Regions from separate parts of the Homo sapiens genome. Here region 1 is linked to region 2. The links come from fine-mapping of genetic effects on gene expression. A gene starts in region 2. The other region holds a variant in brackets. All regions are shown on one strand. Distances are between the middles of the regions.

The links. PIP is the estimated chance that this variant, and not a neighbour inherited with it, causes the effect. A credible set is the group of variants that fine-mapping cannot tell apart.
Region 1: its variant is the best candidate, but not a certain one, in a credible set for the expression of ANAPC15 in whole blood (INTERVAL, PIP 0.54).

Annotation. Positions count from the first base shown.
Region 1 is chr11:71,884,077-71,889,577 of GRCh38, forward strand. DEFB131B (defensin beta 131B) reads left to right here. Exons shown (of 2, transcript NM_001242853.1): 2 at 331-485. The coding sequence ends at 485. XNDC1N (XRCC1 N-terminal domain containing 1, N-terminal like) reads right to left here. Exons shown (of 6, transcript NM_001375847.2): 6 at 1-545. The coding sequence ends at 363. All of the region lies in intron 6 of XNDC1N-ZNF705EP-ALG1L9P (XNDC1N-ZNF705EP-ALG1L9P readthrough), which reads right to left. Among named protein-coding and RNA genes, the nearest start is that of DEFB131B, 8.4 kb to the left of the region's middle. The variant G/C (reference allele first, on the strand shown) is at 2,601.
Region 2 is chr11:72,110,096-72,115,321 of GRCh38, forward strand. ANAPC15 (anaphase promoting complex subunit 15) reads right to left here and starts at 2,600. Exons shown (of 6, transcript NM_014042.3): 1 at 2,555-2,600; 2 at 1,317-1,401; 3 at 1,062-1,191; 4 at 449-508; 5 at 1-130. The coding sequence starts at 1,181. LRTOMT (leucine rich transmembrane and O-methyltransferase domain containing) reads left to right here. Exons shown (of 9, transcript NM_001145310.4): 9 at 1-687. RefSeq lists enhancers at 1,870-2,407, 2,079-2,248, 2,408-2,945, 2,419-2,478, 2,579-2,638 and 1 more and a silencer at 2,609-2,826.

The sequences.
Region 1 (5,501 bases), 230 kb before region 2:
TCCAGAAATTAAACATTATTTCCTGCATTATGAATCTCTACACCACCCCCAAGCTGGATAATTCATTTTAGGTAGAAATATGTGGTAATAGTTCTCATTTAAAATTCTGTACATTTCCAACTACTGCCTCATTTACTACTCTCTTTACAGAAGAAATCATCGTTTGTCTTTATTCAGCATCTCCACTTTTTCTCTTGCATTCTTTTGCTGTTGTTTTTGTTTTTCTGGGAAAGTTCTGTAATGCTTTTAATTTATTATAAAACATTTCAGACATTTAAACATAAAAAGTAAGTAATATTGTGTCATATAATTTGTCTTCTCTTTTTAAAGCCAGAAGCTTCACTTCTAATGATGAATGTCCTTCAGAATATTATCATTGCAGACTGAAGTGCAATGCTGATGAACATGCAATTAGATACTGTGCTGACTTCAGCATCTGCTGCAAACTGAAGATCATTCAAATTGATGGACAAAAGAAGTGGTGAAAATTCTAACTCCATCTTCTTCAGACTCCAGGAGAAAAAACATGTCTTAAACTCTCTTATCTATGAATAATTAACATGATAGATGAAAATTATTATAATTGCATGTTTAGATGGTCAGGTGAAAATGAATATAAATTTTATAAATGCTTACACTCTATTTTCATTTGTGCATTTTAACATTTACTCCCTTAATTTACATCCACAGCCACATTGTTGTTTCACCCATAGTACTATATCCGATGCGGGGAGTAAGAGCCAGCCCCTTTTGCCCCCCTGGCTCTTAGAACCCCTATCGCAGGGGGGTGAGGCACCACCAGCGATGCTGGGAGTAAGAGCCAGCCCTTCTTGCCCCTCTGACTCTTAGGACCCCCATTGCAGGGGGATGAGGAGCCCCCCACGATGCAGGGAGTAAGAGCCAGCCCCTCTTGCCCCCCTGGTTTTTAGGATCCGCGGTGGATACACAGCCTGTTTATCAAATTGTGAGTAATATCATCTCCCGCTCTGGAGATTATGAACTGTTTCACAAACCGGTGTACACCCTGGGTATACAGAGATTGTACACCCGTCTGTATTGGGTGTCATATCATCTTCTTCCTCCCTGAATATTAAGAACAGTATCAAAGGGGTGTTTCTACTCCCTGGGATATCGCGTGTCATATCCTCCTCTCCCAAGTTGCAATTAGAAACAATATCAGTGGGGGTGTGTCCACCTTCTGTGATATTGAAAGTAATATCACATTCTTCCCTCCAGGATCATGGGAACAATATCCTTGGTGGTGTCCACTTTCTGCCATATATATAGTCCTATCAGCCCCTCCGCTTTGGAATGTTATTAAGGACCATCTCACACGGGGGTGTACACTTCCTGCGATGTTGGGAGTAATAGCATTTTCTTCTTCTGTGAATTAGGAGCAAAATCACCGGGTGGATGCACACCCAGTGCTATATTGGGAGTAACATCATACTCCACCCCTTGGAGATTATATTCGGATCAATATCACCGGCTGAGTGTACACCTACTGCGATATTGAACGTAATATCATGCTCTCTCCCACCCTGGACATTAGGAGCAATATCACAGGTGGGTGTACACCCACTGAGGTATTAGGGAGTAATATTAGTGTGAATTATACCTCATTTATTATTAACATGAATATGAATGACCGATATTAATATTAATATTAAGAAATAATTGCTAATAAAGTTTTCAGATTATTAATATTAATATTAATTCTTAGGAGCTAATATTACTGTTTTCTAATGAATAAGATCAATATCAGTTATTAATATCAGGCATCATTAATCATTAATATTAATCATGTATTGTTACCATTAGTATAACTATTTAATATTAATTATCATTATTATCGGTATTGATTTTTAAAAATATTATGGGTTATTAATATTGATAATTATTAGTGTCAATTAATAATTGAGATTATTAATTGCGGTAAGTCGCATTGCGCCATTCCACTCCTCCCTCGGCAGCTCGTTTACGACCCAAAAGGGGACACAAATGCCCCTGAGAGAGCAGCCGTAGACTGGGATAGATGAGGATGGTCACGTGGTGGAGAGGCGTGTTTTTGGGTACCAGCCCTTCACCTGCGTCAATCTTCTCAACTGAAAAAACAATACACCGTCCTATACCGAAAAGCCACAAGCCCTAATTGATTTGCTCCAAACTGTTATCCAGACCCACAACCCCACCTGGGCTGATTGGCACCAGTTGCTCATGTTCCTCTTTAACAGCGAAGAAAGGCGGAGAGTCCTCAAGCAGCAACTAAGTGGCTAGAGGAACATGCACCAGCTGATTATCAAAACCCCCAAGAGTATGGAAGGACCCAGTTGCCAGGAACAGACCCCCAGTTGGACCCACATGAAAGAGAGGATATGCAAAGGCTAAACCGAGACAGGGAAGCTCTCTTGGAAGGATTAATGAGGGGAGCTCAGAAGGCCACAAACGTTAACAAGCTCTCTGAGGACATTCAGGGTAAAGAAGAAAGTCCAACACAATTCTACGAGAGACTGTGGGAGGCCTATCGTATGTATACTCCCTTTGATCCTGATAGCCCTGAAAATCAGCGCATGATTCCCATGGCTTTAGTCCGTCAAAGC[G/C]CAGAAGACATGAGAAGAAAACTGCAGAAACAGGCTGGGCTTGCAGGGATGAATCCATCCCAATTACTAGAAATAGCTAGCCAGGTGTTTGTAAACAGGGATGCAGTAAGCCGTAAGGAAAACGGCAAAGAGAATGGAGGTCAGGCCCGGCGATATGCCGACCTGTTTGTCAGCTGCAGCAATCAGAGGGGCCCCCACAAAGAGGCAAGGGAAGGGAGGCCCTGGGAAAGAAACTCAGCTTGGCTGTCAGAGTTTGCAGCATAACCAGTGTGCTGATTGTAAAGAAATAGGACAGTGGAAGAACAAATGCCCTCAGCTCAAAAGAAAACAAGGTGACTCAGAGCAGGAGGCCCCGGACAAGGAGGAAGGGGCCCTGCTCAACCTGGCAGAAGGGTTCTTGAACTGAGGGAGACAAGACTCAAGCGTCCCCATTGAGCCTCTGGTCACAATGACAGTCGGGGGTGGAGACATTGACTTTCTTGTAGATAGCGGTGCTGAACATTCGCTAGTAACCGCCCCGGTCGCCCGGTTATCCAAAAAGACTATTGACGTCATCGGAGCCACGGGGGTTTCAGCAAAGCAAGCTTTCTGCTTGCCTTGCACTTGTACTGTAGGAGGATATAAAGTCATTCATCAGTTTTGGTACATGCCTGACTGTCCCTTGACCTTTTCGGGAAGGGACTTGCTCAGCAAGCTGAGAGCCACTATCTCTTTGACAGAGCACGGCTCTTTGCTGCTAAAGTTACCAGGAACGGGAGTCATTATGACACTTGTGGTCCCCCGAGAGGAGGAAAGGAGACTTTTCTGAACTGAGCCAGGCCAAGAGAGAAGACCAGCTCTGGCTAAGCGGTGGCCAAGAGTATGGGCAGAAGACAACCCTCCAGGATTGGCCAGTTAAGACTGGGGCCCTGCCAGTGAGGCAAAAACAGGGGCCGGTCCCCAGAGAAGCCCTTCAAGGTATCCAGGTCCATCTCAAGCACCTAAGAACTTTTGGAATTATTGTTCCTTGTCGGTCTCCATGGAACACTCCCCTCCTGTCTGTTCCCAAGTCACGGACCAAGAACTACCAGCCGGTACAGGATTTGCGCTTGCTTCATCAAGCTAAACTGACTTTCCATCCAACAGTACCTAACCCGTCCACATTGTTGGGGTTCCCGCCAGCTGAGGACAGCTGGTTCACCTGCTTGGACCTGAAAGATGCTTTCTTTCCTATCAGATTAGCCCCTGAGAGGCAGAAGCTGTTTGCCTTTCAGTGGGAAGATCCGGAGTCAGGTGTCACTACTCAGTACACTTGGACCGGGCTTCCCCAAGGGGTCAAGAACTCCCCCACCATCTTCGGGGAGGCGTGGGCTCGAGACCTCCAGAAGTTTCCCAGCAGAGACCTAGGCTGCGTGTTGCTCTAGTAGGTTGATGACCTTCTGCTGGGACACCCCACGGCAGTTGGGTGTGCCAAGGGAACAGATGCCCTACACCGGCACCTGGAGGACTGTGGATAGAAGTGTCCAAGAGGAAAGCTCAGATCTGCTGACAGAAGGTATGTTACTTGGGATTGACTATCCGACAGGGGTGGGAAGGCAGCCCGGGATCAGAAAGAAAGCAGGTCATTTGCCATCTAGCGGAGCCTAAGAGCTGAAGGCAGGTGAGAGAATTCTTAGGAGCTGTGGGGTTTTGTAGACTATGGATCCCAAACTTTGCAGTATTAGCCAAGCCTTTGTATGCGGTCACCAAGGGGGCGGGGACCGGGAAACTTTGGAATGCGGATGCCAACAACAGCAAGGCTTTCATGAGTTAAAGGAAAACCTCTGGCAGCCCCAGCCCTGGGGCTACCCGATCTAACAAAGCCTTTTCCATTATATGCATCAGAGAGAGAAAAGATGGCAGCTGGACTTTGAACCCAGACTGTGGGGCCCAGGCCGAGGCTGGGGGCCTACCTCTCTCAACAACTAGACGGGGTTTCTAAAGGATGGCCCCCCTGTTGGAGGGCCTTGGCAGCAACTGCCCTGCTAGTACAAGAAGCAAATAAGCTGACTCTTGGGCAAAAACTGAACATTAAGGCCTCCCGTGCTGTCGTGACTTTAATGAATACTAAAGGACATCATTGGCTAACGAATGCCACACTCACCGACTACCAGACTTTGCTCTGTGAAAATCCCCGTATAACCATTGAAGTTTGTAACACCCTCCACCCCGCCACCTTGCTCCCGGTATCAAAGAGCCCTGTCAAGCCTGGTTGTGTAGAAGTGTTGGACTCAATTGACTCTAGCAGACCTGACCTCTGGGACCAGCCTTGGGCATCAGTAGACTGGGAACTATACTTGGATGGGAGCAGCTTCTTCAACCCCCAAGGAGAGGTGGAGGGTATGCAGGGGTAACCCTGGACACTGTTGTTGAAGCCACATCATTGCCCCAGGCCACTTCAGCCTAGAAAGCTGAACTCATTGCTTTCATTCGGGCCTTAGAACTCAGTGAGGGTGAGACTGTCAACATTTACACTGATTCTAGGTATGTCTTTTCAACCCTTCAAGTTCATGGAGCGTGATAGAAAGAAAAGGGCCTATTGAATTCTAGGGAAGAGACAGAAAATATCAACAAGAAATCTTGCAATGATTAGAAGCAGTATGGAAACCCCACAAGGTGGCAGTTATGCATTGCAGGGGACACCAGCGAGCTTCCACCTGGCTGGGTTTGCGGAATTCCCGCGCTGACTCAGAGGCTCGAAAAGCAGCATCTTCCCCCTTCTGGGCATCAGGGCTCCCTCAAGCACCTGATCTGGGACCTACTTCTTCTAACGAAGAAAAGGACTTTCTCCAGGTAGAGGGAAGGACAAGTGATGGAGGAAGGATGGATTCGGTTAGCAGATGGGAGAGTAGCTGTGCCACAGCTGCTAGGAGCTGCAGTTGT
Region 2 (5,226 bases):
CCTCTCCATCATCCGGTGACTCATTGTAGTCATTCATCTCGTCCATGTCCTGCATATCCTCATCATCCTCTGAGTCCTCTTCACTATCCTCATCATCTTCATCATCCTCTTCTTCCTCGTCATCATAGTGCTGGTGGGCAGGACAGAGCCTGTAAGCCCTACAGGCCTGCATGGACCAGTTCAAGAACTGACCCACTTGAGCCTCTCTCTAGGGCCAATGAATGACCCCCTACCCCGACACTCCCTCCTTGAGTCTAGCAGGCTGGTGCATGTTCTGCAGGACCTTAATGCTAGGCCCAATGCCCACCCCTTCTATCTCCCCTTTTAGGCTTTTACCCAGATCTGAGAACCACAACTGCTCTGGGTCAGAGACAGGACATTCAGAATTAGAGCAGAGCCTCGGTCCACTGCGGCCCCCACACAGGCCCCACCTGCTAGAGCCACTCACCTCTGAGGCTGGCTTGCCAATAGGAACCAGGTTGTTGTCTTTCTCCGCGATGCTTTGGAGCTGTGGGCAAAGGCACAGAGGAACAAGGCCAGAGCCCAAGTAGGGCAGGTCAGGGGCATGGGACTGGCCCATTCTGCCCAGAAGACAACCCACACGTGTTGGGGAGAAGCTTCCTCCCAGTTCTCAGGGAGATACAATCCCTTTCTTGTCATCTGCCATTTATGAACTTGATCCAAATACTTAAACTCTCTGAGCCTTCTTTTTTTTGTATAATTATGGTGAGGATGAAGTGAGAGACTTATCAGCCTAGAAAGCATCATCTGCTAGATCCTCAATTAATAGTCAAAATTATTTCCTGTGCTTTAGGGAAAAGAGCTTGGGCTGAGTGTCAGCAGCCTGGGCTCTAATCTGGCCCAGAAGTCACATGGTACCCCTGTAAAATAGGGTACCACAAGATGAGAACCTTGGCTCCCTGGCTCCCAGCCCGATTATTCCCAGCTCAGGGCAAAAAGCTCTTCCTGGGTAGATTTCTGGAGTAAGGCTGGGTCATGGCCCACTGAAGGAGGTCTCTGTCTGTGCTGAGGTCTCTGTGCTGTGCTAGCTGCTCACTCACCCAGGCCTGATGCTGCTGTTCCTGCTGCTGCAGCTCTGTCTCTTCCACACAGGGTCGATCCAGATTAAACCACAGAGTCTCAGTCACACGAGGGAAGAGTGAGGGGAACAAAGTGGACATGGCTCCTAGACTGAGGGAAAGGGTCAAGTGAATGTGTTTTGCTTTGTTTTTGTTTTTAATTTGGTTGTAATTTGATTTAGGGATAGGGTGGAAGACAGCAGGAAAGCAGCCCCTCCCCCTAGGAATCAGACAGACCTGGCTTTGAGTCCTGGCTCCACCACTTACTAGCTGTTTGACCTTGGCTGAGTCACTTAACCTCTCTGAGCCTCAGTGTCTTCATCTGTAAAATGGGGATAATAACAATTATACCACTGTCAAAGTTATTCTGATAATTAAGTAAATAATGGATCAACAAAGCTGTTTGCAGGCTGTTCAAGGAGGGATGAGAATGGGAGTCAAGTGTAGGGATAGGAATCCAGAATGCAGACTGGCATTATGAAATTATACAAAATTAGAGGTAGCAGGGTTCTACTGAAACTATCCCTACCTCCTCCACACACTAAAACCTGCTTTTTGACCCTTTATGATGGCCCATACCACACCCACCCAGTGTCAGAAATTTAGGACACTAACGACCTCTCATGAATCACAGCCAAATGTCGGGGTGGAGGGATTGTAGCATATGCAAGCAGGGTTCAGTAAGACATTCTAGGAGGCATGAATAAGTGGATAAATAAGTAGATGGAAGATTGAATGGATGAACTAACATTATAAGGGTACAATCAGCTTTGAGCGGCTGAGGGAGCCGACCAGGAGTGCCAGATAATCTGAATTAAACTTAGGACAGGCGAACTGAGGCCCAGCGACAGGCAGAGACTGGCTTTAGGTCATACAGTGTGTCGGGGCTTAGAATTCCTCCGTGAAAGGGATGAGCAGGAGAAAATAATCGATGCCTGGTCCTGCTTTTGTCTTAATTTATCTGACCGACCCAGGGCCAGCCGCTGCCCTTCCCTGTATCTCAGATTCCCAACCCGCGTAATTAGGCACGACGGTAAACACCCTCATGTCCAAGAAGTACTGACAGACCAGCGATCTCGGCTCCGAAAGCCCAACCCACCGTCGCAAAGCCACCGCCCTTTCTTTGCTCATTACGATAATGACCATGCAGTTGACCAACAGAAAGAAAGCAGGGCGGGTCTCAGACAGAAATTTGGCCTTATAGGGTTGCTAAACGCGAAAAAAGCGGGGCCTGGGTAGGACCAATTAACTGAAAGAAATGCTGGGTGACAGGAAGTGACACCAATGAATGACGGACCTTGTGTGACGGGGTGGGGCTTAGTCTCGAGGAAGCGGCCAATGAGCTGGAGCTCTTTAAGGGTTAAGGACTCTCAATATGGAGCTCCTGGGGAGTCGGGTCAAAGGAAATGGGTTTCTCTGGGGGAAAAAGGAATGAAGGGGCAAGGAGACGGTTGCAGCCTTGCGTCTGTACTTACCGCGCCGGGAGGCTGCTGCCGGCGGCGACCCGGAAGCGCTTCACCCAGCCTGAGCGGAAGAACCCACCAGAATCCGGGACTCACCAAACGCATGCGTCCTTCGTCTCCTTTTGTTTTCCCCGCTCCCGCCCACTAAACCGGATGTGACGTTGACCTACCTTAGTCACATTGTTAGGGAAGGAAGTGTGCCGCGCCTACCTATCTGCCCCGCCTTGAGTCTCAGCCAGTCGGCGTCTCCATCCTGGCGCCAGCACTACGGTCTCGTTTAACCACTGCCCCGTTTAACCCCTGCCCTTTTGTTGCCAGTCACCATTTGCTTGTTAACCCCTTCTGAAGAAGAGCTGACAGCAACCTTTTAGTGCGAGGGCCATTCGTCCTGCTGCATCCCAGAAAACTAATCTGTTACTACTTCAGAATTGCTGGTTGATGTTAGGCCCCTCCTATCTGTGCTCTCTCAGCTACAGTTTCCCGTTTGAGCATATTCATTCTTTTTTATTTTTGCTCTGAACAAAAATATTAGAGTTACAATATTACTATATTCCAGGCCTTGCTAGAAACTGGGGATAAATCTAGGAATATGGTCGCTTCCCTGGAAGACCTCACAGTCCAGGGAAGCCAAACCCTGCAGACATGCAGTAGACTTAGTGGTCTCTCTTAAGGTTGCTTGTTGAGTTTTGACATTGGAGATTATGTACAGACTTGAATGACTAGTTAGCCTCAGGCACAGCATTCTGTTGCTGGGGGAATCAGCTGCCCTCCTCAGGCCTGGGCCAAGTACACTTAGAGATCGCCCTCGTCACCTCTCCCATCCTTTGCTGATGCCTCTGTTCTAGTAACCTCTGACTCAGCTTCGCCTTTAGAGATACTCATGCTTTCTGGCAACAGAGGTCCTTCAAACCCAATTCCTATTAAACTCCATCACTTACCAGCCTCTTTCAGGGACAGCAGTTATCCGCATTTCCAGTACTGTCCTGGCCAGATGTGTGAGTTTTGGCAATTCCTTTTCCTCTCTCTGGACTCAGCTTCTTTGTCAACCAGCATCATAATCTCTGCCCAGCCTTCCTTCTATCCTGGGCTGATGTGAAGATTGGATAAGAATTGTTCAAGAGGTCGTGTACTGTGCATATTGAATGTGATTATATTGCCAAATAGCACTGTTTGTTATAGTTTTTCATTAAAGAGTAAACTTTGCCTCTTGGAAATGACTACCTTTTTCATTCATTCAACAAATACCTACTGAGTGCCTTAGTATATGTCCATCACTATTCTTAGTAGTGGGTATACAATAGTAAACAAAACAGACCAAAAAAGTCCCTCTTTTCATGCAGCCTTCATTCTGAGAGAGGTAAACAATAAAGAAGATAGATAAATAAAATATGTAGTTGTAAGATTGCAGTAAATAAGAGAAAAAATAAATCTGAGAAGTGGGAATAAAATATTTGCAGGGGAGGTGTTTTATTTCAGACTGGGGGGCCAAAGTCACTGGGAAGGTGACTTTTGAGTAAAGGTCTGAAGGAGCAGAGAGCCTTCTGATATTTGTGGAAGAGCATTTCAGAGAGAGAGAATACAAGTGCAGAGGGCCTAGAATGGCTTGGGCATAGTGTCCTCTAGGGAGAGTAATAGGTAGGAGATGAGGAGTTGGGGAGCCAGTGGAGGGTTGTGAGCACAGGGTCCACACAATCTGATTTACAGTTTAACTGAGTTACTCTGGCTGTTCTCCAAATAGACTGGGGTAGGGGAGACAATGGCAGAAGCAGGGAGACCATTTGGGAGCCTATTATGATAATCTAGAGGTAGTGGATGAGAAGTGGTTGAATTCTGAATTTATTTAGATGGTAGAGACTACAAGGTTTGCTAACAGATGGACAATGCCAGAATAAGAAAGGAGCCACGATTTTTGGGCTGAACGACTAGAAGATTGGTGTTGCCACTTTTTTGAGTTGGGAAGGAATGGGGAGGTGATGAGGGGTTTGGTTTTTTTTTGACAGGGAGCTTAGGTTTGAGTGTGTTGAGTCTGAGATGCCCATTAGAGTAGAGATGTTGGGGCGGCAGGAAGGCATATGAGTCTGCAGGTCAGGGCAGAGATCTGGGCTGGATAGATCATTTGGGAGTCATTGGCATGTAGATGGTGTTTAAAGTCATGAGACTGGATGAGATCACCAAGGGAGTGAATGTAGTTGGAAAATAGTTTCCTCCAATATTCAGAATTTGAGGAAACTAGGAAAAGCAGCAAACCAGATGGAGAAGGAAGGCCAAAAAGATAAGTAGAAAGCTGGGTGAGTTGATGGTATCTTGGAAGCCATGTAAAGAAAGGGTGGTAGGAGAAAATGGTTTACTGCAGCCTCATTCTGTACAAAATTGTGCTTTTGTTTATTTCCCCAACAGACCATGAGCTCCTTGAGGGCAGGGACTGAATGGTTACTATGTCCCCAGGGCCCAGCATGACCTTCTCCTGGATTCCTCATCTTCCTTCTGTGACCTGTGTCTCCATCAGTTTCTCCTCCGGCATCTTTTTCTTACAGGATTCTTACCTCAGGTACCATTTGCCCCGTCCTTCCTGATAATTCCGCCTGCTGGAAATTCCCTAGTAACAGAGTTTCTTTTCAGGGTCATCAGCCAGGCTCAGTAAGTAATGATGACTGGTTAGCTGGTGACATTTATTGAGTACCAAC